Linked DNA regions of Homo sapiens: region 2 is linked to region 1. Evidence: fine-mapped expression QTL. Tissue or cell type: monocytes. Region 1 holds a variant in brackets; the other region holds the start of a gene. All regions are shown on one strand. Distances are from middle to middle.

Region 1 (8,108 bases):
AGAGTTACTGATATATTTAAAATCCATTGAGGAAGTACAGAGATTTTTTTGGTTCCCTTACCAGCAGAACTGATTCTTAAAGGAACTGTACCTTGAAAAGCTTTCCTTAGTGAAATAATTGCATTTTAATATTGTTTACATTAGAAGAGTAAGGAGTACGGCAATTCATGAACTATTCTGGTCCTTTCTTCTTCTCCTAACTGTGATTTCATTTTCACTGGGGTTAGTTTGATTGCATATAAGCCTCCCTCTGAAAAATAAAACATGGCCTAGAGCCAGTTCTTCAGAATCATTTCAAAATACCTGCAGAAACCCTCCCAAAGAACAGGCTCCTCCAGCCCATATGGGTCTTCTGAACTCTTCCCCACAGCTCGTAAAGCCATGCCCAGGAAGGCCATGACCACTTGCTGTGAATCTTAATAGGACACATGAGCTGGTTTGGCCCTCCTAGGATCCAGGAGGATCTGGCAACTCCTCAAAAGAGGCTGAGTTTTCAGCACCTGAAGGTACAAAAAATGTCTCACTCAACTACTTCCCAGCCTACCGTGGCCTAATTCTGGGAGTTTTCTTCTTAGATCTTGGGAGAGCTGGTTCTTCTAAGGAGAAGGAGGAAGGACAGATGTAACTTTGGATCTCGAAGAGGAAGTCTAATGGAAGTAATTAGTCAACGGTCCTTGTTTAGACTCTTGGAATATGCTGGGTGGCTCAGTGAGCCCTTTTGGAGAAAGCAAGTATTATTCTTAAGGAGTAACCACTTCCCATTGTTCTACTTTCTACCATCATCAATTGTATATTATGTATTCTTTGGAGAACTATGTTATTTGTACTGTCTATTCCAGATAAAACTTACCTTACACCACTTTGGATTCTTACAGAACCTAAGGCCTAGTACAATTAAGTTATTCCGATCAAATTGGGAGGATGTTGTAGGCAGTTTCAGATTTGTGGGGATCTCCCAGGATGCCTTTGATACATTCATTTATATATCAATTATTAATTGAGTACAAGTAAGTGCCCGAAAGTTAATTGCCCCCGGTTCCTACTGTGTAAAGAAATCACCTTTCTTTTTTTTTTTTTTTTTTTTTAAGACAGTATCTCACTCTGTGGCCCAGGCTGGAGTGCAGTGCCACAGTCTCCGCTCACTGCAGCCTTTGCCTCCCAGGTTCAAGTGATTCTTGTGCCTCAGTATCTCAAGTAGCTGGGATTACAGGTGCCCACCAACACGCCCAGCTAATTTTTGTATTTTTAGTAGAGACGAGGTTTCGCCATGTTGGCCAGGCTGGTCTCGAACCGCTGACCTCAGGTGGTCCACCTGCCTCTGCCTCCCAGAGTGCTGGGATTACAGGCATGAGCCACTGTGCCCGGCCAAGAAATCACCTTTCACTGGAAATTTCTCTTTTCCAGTCAAAAAGAAATTTTATCAACCTCAAACTAGACAATTGCAATAGCCTTTCTTCCGTGGCAGAATCTCTGTTCATTAAAGAATAGTATGAATGGCTGTTAAACCCATAAAAATGATTTCCTCAGAATTTTACCTCTGGAATATGTAATGATTAAAACCATAAAGCCTGATTCTTTAACATCCTGCGACAACTGTTAACTGGATTCCTTTAATTTTTTATTTATTTTTTATCTTTTTGAGAAAAGGTCTCATTCTGTCACCCAGGCTGGAATGCAGTGGTGCAATCATGGCTCACTGCAAACTCTGCCTCCCAGGCTCAAGCAATCCTCCCACCTCAGCCTCCCCGGTAGCTAGGACCACAGATGCATGCCATCATGCCCAGCTAATAGCTGATTTTGTTATTTTTAGTAGAGATGGGGGCCTCACAATATTGCCCAGGCTGTTCTCGAACTCCTGGGCTCAAGAGATCCACTTGTCTCTGTCTTCTAAAGTGCTGAGACTACAGGTGTGAGCCACTGTGCCTGGCCTATTAACTGTCAGATACTATAAAACCCAGAAAAATTCTCTTCTAAAACACTGAGTTGAGGCCTTAACATGAATTTCACTTTTTGTTTCTGATTTATCAGACCTTATTATATTTAATGTACTTAACTTGTCCGAAAAGGCAAAAGTTCCTCTTTGGTGCTTGTGTGTCATTCGAAAAATCTCAAGAGAGTCACTGTAGTTTTCTCATGTTCCGTGTAAGATCTCTTCTTGAAAACTCAAACGTATGGCCAATCACAGGTTCCTTTATGACCATAATTTTAAGGTGCCATTCTGATAACTTTAGGAAGCAAAGGCATGGCTTTGTTACTGCAGATTATTTTGCTGTGTCAACATACAATATTCATCTTATCCATCTTGGTCTACATTTCAATAGGAATAGATGGGACCATGGTAATAGAGAACAGTTTTGTTGTTGTTGTTGTTGTTGGGGTCCATAAGGGTTTTTCCATTTCTGTATCTTTTTTTTCTTGCTCTCTAGAGATTTCATCACATTTTAAAGTTTTGCCAAGCCAAAAAGCTACCTGAATGTAGAGCAGCATTCATCCCCTCTTGCCTATTTCTAAGCATTTCTCAGGGCTTAGTCATCCATCAGAAAAGGACCTCCCTTGATGGGAAAACTCCTTCTCATATCTCTTCTTTGACCTTCAGTTTCTACCTGCAAGAGAGTGAATGGCCTATTTCAAACACCGAAATCAATTTGTCTTTGGAAAGTCATCTTATATACAAATATTATCCTTACCTCAAATTGGGGAAAGGTTAATAATTTATGCAGAAAACTAAGAGAAAGGAATAGGGGAGGAGGAAAGATAGTTTATCAAGGGCAATTGTTTCCCTTTTGACTTCAAATGGTTCATCGAGGCCAAGCTGATGATTTCAATTGAAAATAAAGAAGTTGTATGAACGAATGCCATCATATTTTTTCCTCCTGAGAAAAACCACCATGCTGTGCTGGAGATTCATGGCATATATTTGAGCTCTGTGTTGTAAGAAGGAATACCCTAGGGCAAATGCGTGCTAGAGGGGCTTAATACTTGGCAGAATCCTTCTTTTTCAGTAGCCTGCTTTTATGACTGCTCCGACTGCACCTGTTAGGAAGATAAATAAAGGACTGGCCAATTCTTTCCTCTGAAGCGCCCTAAATATATCACTTTAAAAAGACTTTGGAAAAACAAGTTGTATCCTTACTTCTCACCCAGTAAATCTAAAGAAATTCCCTCTTGTTCCCAGGCCTTTCAAACAGTGAAGTCAGGAGTAAGGGAGACTGTGGACTGGTCAAAGGTGGAAGTTAGACTCACTAGCTGGTCTAAGGAATCCAGGAGGGTGGAAAACATGAAGAACTTACAATCCTTTATGCTCTCAATGACTCACTTTATTTTGGCCATGAGACACAGCCTTGAAACTTTTTTTTTTTTTTAGGCTCTGTATACACACACAATTCATAGAGTTTCCTTTTTAACAGCAATTTCAAAGTATCCCCGAATCAAACATGAATGTTGAAGTCAACTACCCAGACTGAAGTTGCTTTTAAAAAATGCTTGGACACAAAAACAAATAAATAAGTGGTCTCTTTAAAAACTTGAATAAATACAAAATGACATTTTTGCAATACTTTTGTAAACAAATACATTCTTCTTTTCAATTTTGTATGGTTGTGAGAGGAGATTGCTGTGTAATTATTGCTATTGTTTTTACAGTCCAAGGAAGCATTTTTGTTACTTTTATTTAAAATTATTGCAATTGTTTTATTTAAAAATTATTTTTAGGCTGTTTGTGGACACAGAGAAGAATTTTGATTATAATTAATAATGACTATTTTTATCTTCACTGCTCCTTAATTAGTCTATGAAAACTATATTAAGAGACACAAAATACTCTTGGCTGCCAGTATGTTCTGTGGTAATTCTAAACTTCATCTCTAGACATACTTAAGTGTGTTAGATGATAAAGAACAGGATTAAAGTTCTAGCAATCAAACATAAGTATGGAAATTTTAATTTCA[T/C]GTGTGTACCTGAGAGCATGTGGCCACATCTTCTTTGTTATTATTCCATGTTAGTTCTTGATGGAAACAGATGTCTTTTCTGGAATCCATGGTTTGTTCAAAGTACTGCATCCTGGGGAAACTGAATAAATACACAGAAAGGTAGTAGCTGAATTAGTGTTCTGAGTTAGGTTAATCATGAAGTAGCTACTGTTTATTCATGAGGGGTTTCCTAAAATTTGAGAGCATACCAGTTAAGGAAAGCCAAACTGTGAAAAAGAAGAAAAGACTTTGTCACTTAATTTTCTACATGTATGCAAATTATCTCATAACTGGATAAGAAGAGGGCTTCTGTCCTTGCAGCTTTTTACAAAGACAGCCCCCCCAAAGTCAAAGTGATCATACTGTCTTGTCGTAATTCTGCTCTGTGTGGATAGGCTCAGTTTTAATTTACAAAGAGTATGTTTGTTTTAGACAGCCCAAAGATGGACCACAGGCCAAATTTCAAGATGTTCCCATTCATGGGACAGAGTATTTATGGGCTTTAACGTACATTTTCAGAGTAAACTTTTAGGTCCCATCAGATTGGGGCATGAATTGATTGATTTGGCAGAGGCGGAGACCAGAATCATTCAATCTCACACTTATTTCTCTTTCTATAATGAGTTCACAAAAAGCTAACTGTAATCTGACTTTCATTATGCCTTTCAAGTCTAAATCCACTTTGATAAGACTTGCCCTTTTATACTCCCTTAGGAATCCTTTTTAGGCCAATTTGGCACATCAGGGCAGCGTCTAAAATTACATTTAATAATATGTCAAATGTTAGATCTTATGATTTTGTTCTATTCTTTTTTTTTGATGTGTATTTAGCTATTTTGGTAAGTATTCTTCTTCTCTAAAATTGTCCAAATCTTTCCTAAATACTCTTTATAAATTGCTTTGCTTGCATCTGGTGATATCGTTTGCCTTCTAAAAATTTTAATGAATCTTGGAACAGAATGCTCTACTTAAAACTCAAAATGTGTCCTTTTTAATTCTACATTTTGTCATGTTTAGAGTTAGATGTCTTTAGGGTTGTTATGCACACAGTATGTGTCTTGGCTTTTTCTTTATGCATCTTAAATATTATGCATTATTAAACATGGTGACATAAAAAAAATTATACTATTTGTAGAACATTCTAGACAGCTCAAATTCCAGCTGCACCATAGACTGAATTACTTACACTTTGTATGCCTCTGTTTCCTCATCTGTATGTGAATAAAACAGTATCAACTCTTTGGGTCTCAGTAAGAATTAACTGAAATACACCAGGTAAAGTGCTTATTTTATCTTATTTTATTTTTTATTTGAGATGGAGTCTTGCTCTGTCGCCCAGGTCAGAGTGCAGTGGCATGATCTCGGCTCACTGCAACCTTCACCTCCCTGGTTCAAGCAATTCTCCTACCTCAGCCTCCTGAGTAGCTGGGGTTACAGGCATGCGCCACCACGCCCAGCTAATTTTTGTATTTTTTTGGTAGAGATAGGGTTTCAACATATTGGCCAGGCTGGTCTCAAACTCCTGACCTCAAGTGATCCACCTGCCTCGGCCTCCCAAAGTGCTGGGATTACAGGCATGAGCCACCATGCCCGGACAGGTAAAGTGCTTAGAACAGGGCCTAACATATGGAAAGATTTCAAGCATTTTCCTCCTAAAGCAGTAAACTCAGAAATCTTGTCTGGCACAAGGTATTAAATGCCTCATATTTCACATAAACTGATGGCATTTCCCTCAACATAAGGGATGTAACAACCACTGCTCACCTCCTCACTAGTGTAATATTTATAATACACGCCAAGAAAGCTGCTATGATAGTCATAACCATCATTCCCACCACTATATTTCCTTCTTTTACTTGTGGTGATACATCTTCGCTTTCACCCATAGAAGCTCAGATCAAATAAAAGGTCTATACTCCATGACCTCTGTTGTGTTCTTACTGAAATGAGCCATGTCCAATTCGGGGGTCTGTAGTTGTCAGCATAAGGTGATAACGGTTGGGTTGTTTCTTCACTGTTCTTGTGGGGACATGGCCTTTCCCACTTAGATGAAAGAGTTACCCTACAGAGTTGAACAATATCTATGTCTGTCTCCAAGGGTTATAAGTCTTGGGTTTGTGGGACTTTACAATTTCTCTCCCTGGCCAGGCGTGGTGGCTCATGCCTATAATCCCAGCACTTTGGGAGGCTGAGGTGGGAGGATCACCTGAGGTCGGGAGTTTGAGACCAGCCTGACCAACATGGAAAAACCCCATCTCTACTAAAAATACAAAATTAGCAGGGCATGGTGGCGCATGCCTGTAATCCCAGCTACTCAGGAGGCTGAGGCAGGAGAATCACTTGAACCTGGGAGAACGGAGGTTGTGGTGAGCCAAGATCGCGCCATTGCACTCCAACCTGGGCAACAAGAGTGAAACTCCGTCTCAAAAAAAAAAAAAAGAAGATTTCTCTCTCTTATCAGGGGTGCTTTTTGGTGGATAGGGTCTTCCTCAGTCTGCGCTTTCCTGAGATGACCACATAAAGAACTCTCCATGACCACATATGGATGTGGTGGGTGATTGATTGAGTGTCACTGTGTTTATTGCGGTGGAATTTTATTTTTATGACCCCACCTGGCGTCAGGACTCTTCTTCCTCTATTTTTAAAAAGTCACCCAATGTGAGGTCCAGCAACAGTTTGGAGCAAGGCCTTTAAGAAATTTATCCTATAACCCTATAGCCACATAAATAAGTGATACAAGATCAGGTACAATGGCTCATGCCTGTAATCCCAGCATTTTGGGAGGCCAAGGCCAGAGAATTGCTTAAGCCCAGGGGTTTGAGACCAGCCCAAGCAACATGGTGAAACAGCATGAAAAAATACAAAAATTATCTGGATGTGGTGGTGTACACCTGTAGTCCCAGCTACTTGGGAGGCTGAAGCAGGAGATTCACTTGAGCCCAGGAGGCTGCAATGAGCCATGATCATGCCACTGCACTCCTGCCTGGGTGGCAGAGTGAGACTCTGTCTCAAAATAATAATAACAATAATAACTGATTCAAGATCCCCAAAAAAGACACAGTAAAGGAGGAAACTGTTAACAATTCAAATTGCTTTTGCAATAATTTCTTTTTGACCTATGCTAAAATTTTAAGCTCCTTCAATCTGAGTAAATCTTCCCCTGCAAAACACACCCCATTTGATTCTTTAAAACATGGTAAGAGTAGTGAGGAAGGCAAGTCCTCAGATCTTAGCAATTTTCCCCCAGCCCCATGTTAACAATGAGAAGCTATTTGTTGCTATGTAATAAGGACCATATTTTAATCCTCTTCCTGTGTGAAATGACATCCTGAGATGAAACTTGCATAATTAGAAGGACAAAAGAATGAATTGACTAGGGGAGGAAAAAAAACCCTGTAGATTCAGGGAAATTCCAAAGGTTGAATAATGAGTCATTGAATATTTACATGATCAAGGTACAATTAGACTTCATCTATTCAGAACATTAGAGTACAGTACAGTCTTTGGCAACATTCGACCATAGTAAATAAATATGGATTAAATTGATTGAATCATTCTGAATAGCTGGATTCTCTGCACAGCTAAAGGTTAATTTTGTTATATAACCTCAGAGCCTTATTTTTTCCACCAGTTTGAATAGAAACATTCTTAAAATGTAATATATTACTCCTTGCTTTAAAAAATAAAGTACAGTGGATATAATTTGTCTTAAATTATAGATATCAGTTATTAGTAGCATGTGACACCCTGAGGGCCCAAATTATTTGCTCTTTTGAAAAATGGACTCATATTGATTTGTATTTTGAATTTCTTTCCAATTTTTCTTAGCTTTCCTACTTTATCCCTCCTAGAAGTGTGCTGTCTTCTTTAGTACTCTTGTCAGTCAGCATATGAAACTGTTCCCCTCACTCCCCTTTGTCCTTTATTATAGACGCCATTCCAGGTAATTAATCTGGCTGAGTAGAGTTTAGCACCACCTAAGGCACAACATTTAAGAAGGCACTGACTTTCTGGGTCACCAAAATGCAGGTTCAGCCCCTTAAGTGACCTCCTTAAATTTTGCTCCTCAGGCACCCTGCTTACCTTTCCCAAGTCCCAGGCCCTGGGTTTACTGAGGAGCTAGGGCCTTCTTCCATGAGG
Region 2 (8,108 bases), 96 kb after region 1:
TATTTTTAAATTATGACATTTCATATTTGCAAAATATACAAATATGCCATCTATATCTATGTAGATATATAGTTACATAGATTGCATAAATAATAGTAAAATGAACATGTTACTACTACTCAGTTAAAAAACTGTGATTGAGACAGCTTGATGGCCCCCCACAATACCCACTCTCTCACTTTTCAATAATAATAGAAATGTTTTGGCCGATTGTGGTGGCTCACACCTGTAGTCCCAGCATTTTAGGAGGTCAAAGCGGGAGGATCATTTGGGGTCAGGCATTTGAGACCAGCCTGGCCAACATGGCGAAACCCCATCTCTACTAAAAATACAAAAATTAGCTGGGTGTGGTGGCACATGCCTATAGTCTCAGCTACTCAGGATGCTGAGGCAGGTGAATCACTTGAACCTGGGAAGAGGTTGCAGTGAGTTCAGATTGCGCCACTGCACTCCAGCCTGGGTGACAGAGCAAGAATCTGTCTCTAAATAAATAAATAAATAAATAAACAAGTAAAAGAAATTTTAGCTGGGCAGGTGGCTGTCTGGCTAAAGATTGCATTTGCAGGCTCTTTTACAGTTAGGCATAGCAGCCATGTGGCCAGGCTCTGGCCAATGGGATGAGAGCAGAAGTGATGTGTGCAACCTTTGATCATGGCCTTCAGAAGAAAGGAGCATAGCAGCCCCTTCTCTTTTTCCCCTTCCTATTGGTTGGGAGTCATGGCCAGCCATTTTTGATCACAAGGACAAGGGCAACATCTGAAAGGCGGCAGACTAATAAAATGGAAGAAGTCTGTGTCTCTGACACCATCGAGCTGCCATGTAGCCCTACCATGCCTACCCAGACATCAATGTGGGAAAAATAAACCTCTATTCCATTTAGGTTGCTGTAGTTTGCCCAGCTGTAGTCTAAAAAATTACCAATACCTTTGAAACTTGCCATGTGCCCCTCTATAATTGCATTTACCTTCCTTTCTATCAGGAGTAACCACTATCAGGATTGTACTTATAATTCTTTTCCTTTTCTTCATAGCTTTGCCACATGGGAGCTGCAAAGTGCAGTCACATGTTTTTGAAGTTTATATAAGTAAAATAATACTGTGTGTATTTTGCCTATGGCCTGCTGTTATGGACAGAATGGTATCCTGCCCCTGCTCCACCCCCAATTCATATGTTGAAGCCGTAATCCTCCACAATGTGATGGTATTTGGAGATGGAGCCTTTAGGATATTGGATATCATGAGGGTGGGGCCTTCATGATGGGATTAGTGCCTTTATAAGGACTTTATAAGGAGACACCAGAGAGCTTCCTCTCTTTCTCTCTCTGTCTGTCATGTGAAGACATAGAAGGTGGCCATCTGCAAGCCAGGAAGAGAGTTCTCACTAAGAAACACACTTTGACTTTGGACTTCCCAGCCTCCAGAACTGTGAGAAATAAATTCCTGTTGTTTAAACTATTCAGTCTACGGTATTTTATTATGACAATCCAAGCTGACTAATACATCTGCTTTTTTTTTTCACTCAACATATGCTTGTGCAATTCATTCATGTTCATAAGTGTACCTATAGTTCATTAATTTTTTACTGCCATATTAAACTTGCTATATAATATTAAATTACTTGAAAATACCAGTTTATTTACCCATTCAATATTAGTGGACATATAAGTTATTTACAGCTTTTAGTTATTGTACAGACAAAGGTGTCATGAGTATTCTTATACTTATCTCCTAGGATACATGTGCAAGAATTTCTTTAGGATCTGTTTCTGGATCAGAATTGTGGTGTCAGAGTACACACATCTTCAACTTCACCAGATCATGCCAGGTTGTTTTTCAAGTGGTTGTAACCATCTACTCTTCCTAGCAAACACTTCCACTTGGGTACGCCACATAATTAAGTTCTGGCCAATGAGATACATAATACAACAGTCCCCTTATCTCCAGAGACATATTCCAAGACCCACAACTGTTGCCTGAAACTATGGATAATGCCGAACCCTATATGTACTATGTTGTTTCTAATAACCAAGATGGCTAATAAATGAATAAAGGACAGGTGGCTTATATAGCAGGGATACACTGGACAAAGAGATGATGTAAGTCCTGAGTGGAGAAGAGTGGGACTGGGTGAGATTTCATCACGCTACTCAGAATGGCATGCAATTTAAAACTCACACTTTATTTCTGGAATTTTCTATTTAATATTTTTGGACTGTGGTTGACTGTGGGTATCTAAAACTGCAGAAAAGTAAAACCAGGGACAAAGGGAGACTACTGTATGGAGAAGTGTTGTTTGGGAGTTTTGGAGAGGCACCCCAGTTTGCTCACCAGCCAGTGATATCTACTTTTTGTTTTTCCTGTCCTCTTACTCCTTCCTGCTGCTTGAAACACAAATAAGATGACTGGAGCTTCACCAGCCATTCTGAATCATGAGATGGCCTTATAGATACAAGTCAGAGAGGATATTGGAGCAGAGAGACAGAAAAGCCTGAGTTCCTGATGACCATGGAAACATCGTACCAGTCTTGGAGTGCCAATTCTGTACTTCTTTTATGTGAGAGAGAAATAAATTCCTGTTGTCTAAGCTATTCAGTCTGTGGTATTTTGTTATGACAATCCAAGCTGACTAATACACCTGCTTCTTTTTTTTTTTCAGTCAACATATGCTTGTGCAATTCACTCATGTTCATAAGTGCACCCTGGAACATTACCATGTTCCAGGGCTTCTCCTATAGAAACAGAACATAGCCCAGTTGATTATTTTTTATTCTGATTGATTTTTAGGAGTTCTTTACATAATCTGGGTTCTACTCATTGTGGGTTTTGAGGGAAATACCTTTTCCCAGTTTATGGCTTGTCTTTTCATTCTCTTGATGACGTCTTTTGATGTACATTAAAAATTATCTTTAATACAGTGAAATCGGCTAATCTAGAAAAGGATTTTTTCCTTGGACTGTTCATGGCATCGGTAAATTAAAAAGTAGTTACTGTCAAGTTCACTGCACATAAACCAGCATTGTTAAAAGTGGATCTCCATCATTCCATTTCCTTTCCTGCATTTGTCAGCATCGTTTTTCACACTAAAGATGAGGAGATCCATATTCCTAAGACATATACGCTTGGTCTGTAGAGACCCTCATTGCTCTAAGGCAGTGGTTGCCAGTTTTTTCCTTAAAGGGCCTAGTAGGACATAGTCCAGGCTTTGCCAGCCATACGGTCTGTCACAACTGAATTCTGCTGCCCTTGTAGCATGAAGGCAGCCAAACAATAGGTAAGGAATAAACATGGCTTTATTCGTGGCACTGAACTTTGAATTTCATATAATTTCACAACACAAAATTGTATTCTTTTGATTTTTTCCAATCATTTAAAAATGTCAAAACCATACTTAGCTGGAGGGCTGTAGGAAAACAGGTGGTGGGCTGGGTCTGGCACACAGGCAGCAGTTCGTGGACCCCTGTGCCAAGTGTTTGACGAAGCCCGTGAGGCAAACTGCACTTGCCGATAGAGGTTGCGCCACACAAGTGTCTTGGAAGCAATTTCTGGCTTGTCCTAGGCCTTAGAAAGTGCGTGCAGATCAGAGCCATGAAGTGAAGAGCAAAGCAAGTGACAGGCCTGTCTCAGGTTGTGCAACAGAACGTGTTTATGACAGATGTCCCCTGTCCAAGTGAGTGCACTGTGAGATAAGGGGCCGGTGACCTACCAATGCGTGTGGCAAGCCAGCCTGTTCCCCCTTGCAGGGGGAGGACACTCCTGCCCTTTATTCCAGGGAAGAGTATGTGTAAAAATATTCACCCTTGTTGGTATCAAATGCGCTGAAGAAAATAGGTATCGGGGTTTCAGCCATTCGGTCTCCTTGTTAGTGTTTCTAAGCCCTGATTTTCAGTTTCAAAACCTTGGTCTCTGAATCCGCAGTGATGGGTCTCTAGAGCGAATACATGGCAGGGCCGCCTTCCTCCGTACAGAAAGGGAGAATTGTGCTTGTGTGTTTTACCAAGCAGGACAGATGGGGCCGTCACCCCCGTGACCCGAGCCCTGCAAAACTGTGTTCTCACACGAAAACCCCCAGGCTCTGCGGGCAGCGTGGTCCTGCAGTGGCTAACACTGGGCGACCGGAGTCGTGTTCCGACCCCTAGGAGAGGAACCGGCTCGGTCGTGGTGCAGCCCGCGAGGAGACGACCTCAGGGCGTAATCCGACGCCGTGGGTTAAGACATCAGACCTCAGGCGCAGTGCAGCCGGCCCCTGGGGAGTCAAGGACCTTGATCGCCGATAACAAGTTGCCGTTGGCGGGCGCCGAGGGTGACCCGCGAGCGCGGCACCCGCCTCCCCGCCCCTAGCAGGACCCCCTCCGCCCCGCCCCCAGCCGGACCCCTCCCCGAGGCCCCGCCCCACCCGCGAGCCGCAGCCGCGGCCCCACAGCTTCTGGGGCTGGGGCCCCGGCAGCCGGGCAGGCCGGCCTGACCTCGACCTCCGCCGTGCGGGCCCGACCGGTGAGTCCAGCCCGGCAGTCGCAGGACCCGGCCGCCAGCCTCTCCCTCCACCTCTCCCTGCCCCCAGCGCCAGGCGCGGGCTGCGCTCGGTGGCGGCGGCGGGGCCCTCAGGCGGCCATGGCGGCAGGCGCCGGGGCCGGGTCCGCGCCGCGCTGGCTGAGGGCGCTGAGCGAGCCGCTGAGCGCGGCGCAGCTGCGGCGACTGGAGGAGCACCGCTACAGCGCGGCGGGCGTCTCGCTGCTCGAGCCGCCGCTGCAGCTCTACTGGACCTGGCTGCTCCAGTGGATCCCGCTCTGGATGGCCCCCAACTCCATCACCCTGCTGGGGCTCGCCGTCAACGTGGTCACCACGCTCGTGCTCATCTCCTACTGTCCCACGGCCACCGAAGAGGTAGGGCTGGCCGATCGCCCGAGCCGGGCCCCAGATGCGCTGCGGGCGGGTCGCTGGAGGCGCCGGGGGAAGGGCGGACCCACGCGCGGCTGAGCCTCTCCCGGGCCCCGGAGGGGCGGACTGGCCACTGCCCCGGGCGGTGTCCGCCCTGGGCCGCCTGGAGACTGTCACGCCACTATCCCAATCCCGTGACCATCCCAAGCCTCCCCTGGGCAGCGGAGGGGCTGTTAAGGTCACTGCCCCAGGTCCTATGTCCGCGCAGATCCTCCCCACGGCCGCGGACGGGCCGGAGGGCGCCTGCCCAGCCGCTATCCCATGCGGCGCCAACCTGTGAGACGGACCCGCGGTCGGGTGCTTTGCACACTGGGGACTGAACACCCCCATCTCCGTCCTGCCTGGCACAGGGACTTGTGCCAAGCCCGAGACGCCCTTTGAATACTTTCGTAACCGTTCGTTTCTGGAAGGTTGAGCTAGTGATCTTGAAATGACCGGTAGCACTGATCAAAGATGAGTTAAGAGGTAACTTCCTCTTTGCTTCATCGACTTTTTCAAGAAAAACAAACTGGAATGTTATCAAGGCAATAATTTTTTTGTCATCACAACCTAGGGATTAAAAAAACCCCAACATTTTATTAGCAATAATTACATTTGACCTTTGTACAAAATAAGGAGTAAATATAGGCTTTGGATAGCTGTTCATCAGAAGCACCCTTTGGGCTGAGTGTGGAGGGATAGGGGGCAGAGTGGAGTTCACTCCCATCTATAGTTTATACTACGTGGGATAAATATTACATTGCACATTCTGTGACATTACTTTCTATTCTCTGCTCCAAATAGTGAAGTCCCTTTATAATCATTTGAGTGTAGGCCTTGTGGAGGACTCATGGAGGTTGAGGTTGGATTAACAGAAATACAGTGGAAATATTTCATGCCCTCCATGCATGCATCCATTTTGTTGTTGTTTTTGAGACAGGGGTTTACTCTGTCACCCAGGCTGGAGTGCCGTGCCGTGGCTCGATCTCGGCTCACTGCAACCTCCGCCTTCAGGGTTCAAGCGATTCTTCTGCCTCAGCCTTCCAAGTAGCTGGGATTACAGGCGCGTGCCACCACGGCCGACTCACTTTTGTGTTTTTAGTAGATACAAGGTTTCACCATGTTGGCCAGGCTCATGCATCCTTTAAAAACAAAAATTTGATCGAGCCTACATTTTAAAATATCTTGTCAATGGATTGGTATGCTTATTATGTATTTCTTTTCTTTTTTTTTTTTTTGAGACAGAGTCTCGCTCTGTCACCCAGGCTGGAGGGCAATGTGGTGATCTCGGCTCACTGCAACCTCTGCCTCCTGGGTTCAAGCGATTCCCTTGCCTCAGCCTCCTGAATAGCTGGGACTACACGTGCCTGCCACCACGCCCGGCTAATTTTTGTATTTTTAGTAGAGACGGGGTTTCACCATATTGGCCAGGCTGGTCTCGAACTCCTGACCTCAAGTGATCCGCCTGCCTCGGCCTCCCAAAGTGCTGGTATTTACAGGAGTGAGCCACTGCGCCAGGCTTATTATATATTTCTTAATAGACATTCCCATTGTCATTTGCCATTGCTATTCATTTACATATTACATATGAAAAAGTAAGCTGCTTTAGTTTTTGGCTGTTTTGCTGCCTGTTTCTAGAATTTACCAGAGGGAGTGTGTTAGAATGAAAGGATAGCTGGGTTGGAAGTGGAGGTCTTGGTTTCTAACTGGCTCTTCCACCACAGACCTGCTGGGTCTGTGTTCCCACAGATACAATAGAAAATAATGCCTGCCAAAACAACTTGACAAGGATGCAGTGAGGACCAAATGATATATATGCAGATAAATGTAAAAGATTGCGATGTGCCTAACAAATTAAAAATATCACTCAACACATTAAAAATATTACTGTTATCAGACAACATCCTGAAAACACATAATAAAATTTAGTTTTGATTGGGTCCAGATTTAGCTAACAGCATTTGAATGTTTCTGATATTGGCCAGTTAAGTTGTGGACTCTTCAATGTTATTATTAATTTAAGAAGCATTTGTTGAACACTTAGAAAGAGCAGGGCTTACCAAAAAAGTCAAGAGCTTCTGCCTAGGGAAGTAAAGGGAGGCCTGATGGAAGAGGTACGTTTATGATTAATTAGTTTTTAGGATCAGCCTCATGTGAAAAAAAAAAAAAAAAGGGTGGAGGGTGGGGATTGGAGGCATTTAAAAATAAAGTGCAAAATCAAATGGCCCAAGAAGGGTAAATGAGAGTTAAAAACAAGAGTTTCTGAAATGTATGTCACTAGAACCTTCATATGCTTCTGAGTGACTGATGCAGGGAGGGGAAACGCCATTACAGGATCCACATTGCTTGTTTGGTGAAAGCCCAGCAACAGTGTGAAGAGTGTAGCAGTTTCTGGCTATTTTCTCTTAAGTTCATAGAACTAGCAAATGACTGGATCAGGTAGGATTCAGATCTAAGTTGGTATGACTTCAAAAATAAAAAGATCCTATGTTTTACATAATACAAATATGTAAAGTGCTTTCACATCCATGGTTGCATTTGTGTCTTGTTATCAGCCAAAGAGGTTAGCAAGTTTTCCGCTTCCTACAATGGCCCTCCTACCACCTCAGTATTTCTTCTATCCATCTATCCTGAAGTAACAGTAGTATATGTTTTCATAAGAGGAAATTGAAGCCCAGAGATGTCAAGTGACTTTCAACTGGCTTGGGACTTGTTTTCTGATTCTCAGACTTAAGAATTCTTAGTGTTTTTTTCAGACTTGACAGATTGCTTCCAGAAAGAGTCAGCAAAAACACATAAGGTTTTTCGATTTAGATGCTTGGGCTTATCTACTCATATAGGCTTTAATACTGAGTGCATGAATAATAACATTTGATACGTTTTTAAGCATGATGCTAATTTCTAGAACATGACTGGGGATAAAGGGAAACTAATAGAAAAAAGTTGTGATTTATATTTAGCTTCTGCAAACTGCTTTTCAAGCCATCATTTCCAATAAGGAACTTTGTACTCCAGCCAAATTGAACTTCTTACTATAACAAGGATTTCTCTCCTTCTTATCCCTCTCTTTTCCCCTTCCTCTTCCTTTCTTCTGTACCAGTTATCCAACTATGTACCCATCTTTCAATACCCAATTCTAACACTATATCCTTATGAAAGTTATCTTCCTTTTCCTAAGTCAAATCAACCACTCTG

Direction of the effects. Positions count from the first base shown, and alleles are read on the strand shown. Sizes are in standard deviations (SD) of each study's normalised expression.
In carriers of allele C in region 1, the expression in monocytes of the gene that starts at base 4,386 in region 2 tends to be lower than with T alone (large effect, 0.89 SD a copy in Schmiedel 2018).

Evidence for each region. PIP is the estimated chance that this variant, and not a neighbour inherited with it, causes the effect.
Region 2: CHPT1 starts here. The variant in region 1 is fine-mapped to the expression of CHPT1 in monocytes (Schmiedel 2018, PIP 0.95).

The regions. Positions count from the first base shown.
Region 1 is chr12:101,596,953-101,605,060 of GRCh38, forward strand. The region is part of intron 1 of MYBPC1 (myosin binding protein C1); the gene reads left to right. LOC105369938 (a long non-coding RNA gene) reads right to left here. Exons shown (of 5, transcript XR_001749279.2): 4 at 3,957-4,068; 5 at 1,602-2,603. Among named protein-coding and RNA genes, the nearest start is that of MYBPC1, 6.0 kb to the left of the region's middle. The variant T/C (reference allele first, on the strand shown) is at 3,948.
Region 2 is chr12:101,693,255-101,701,362 of GRCh38, forward strand. CHPT1 (choline phosphotransferase 1) reads left to right here and starts at 4,386. Exons shown (of 9, transcript NM_020244.3): 1 at 4,386-4,880. The coding sequence starts at 4,608. It also overlaps a transcript of MYBPC1 not described here. RefSeq lists an enhancer at 3,860-4,109 and silencers at 4,330-4,669, 4,930-5,119.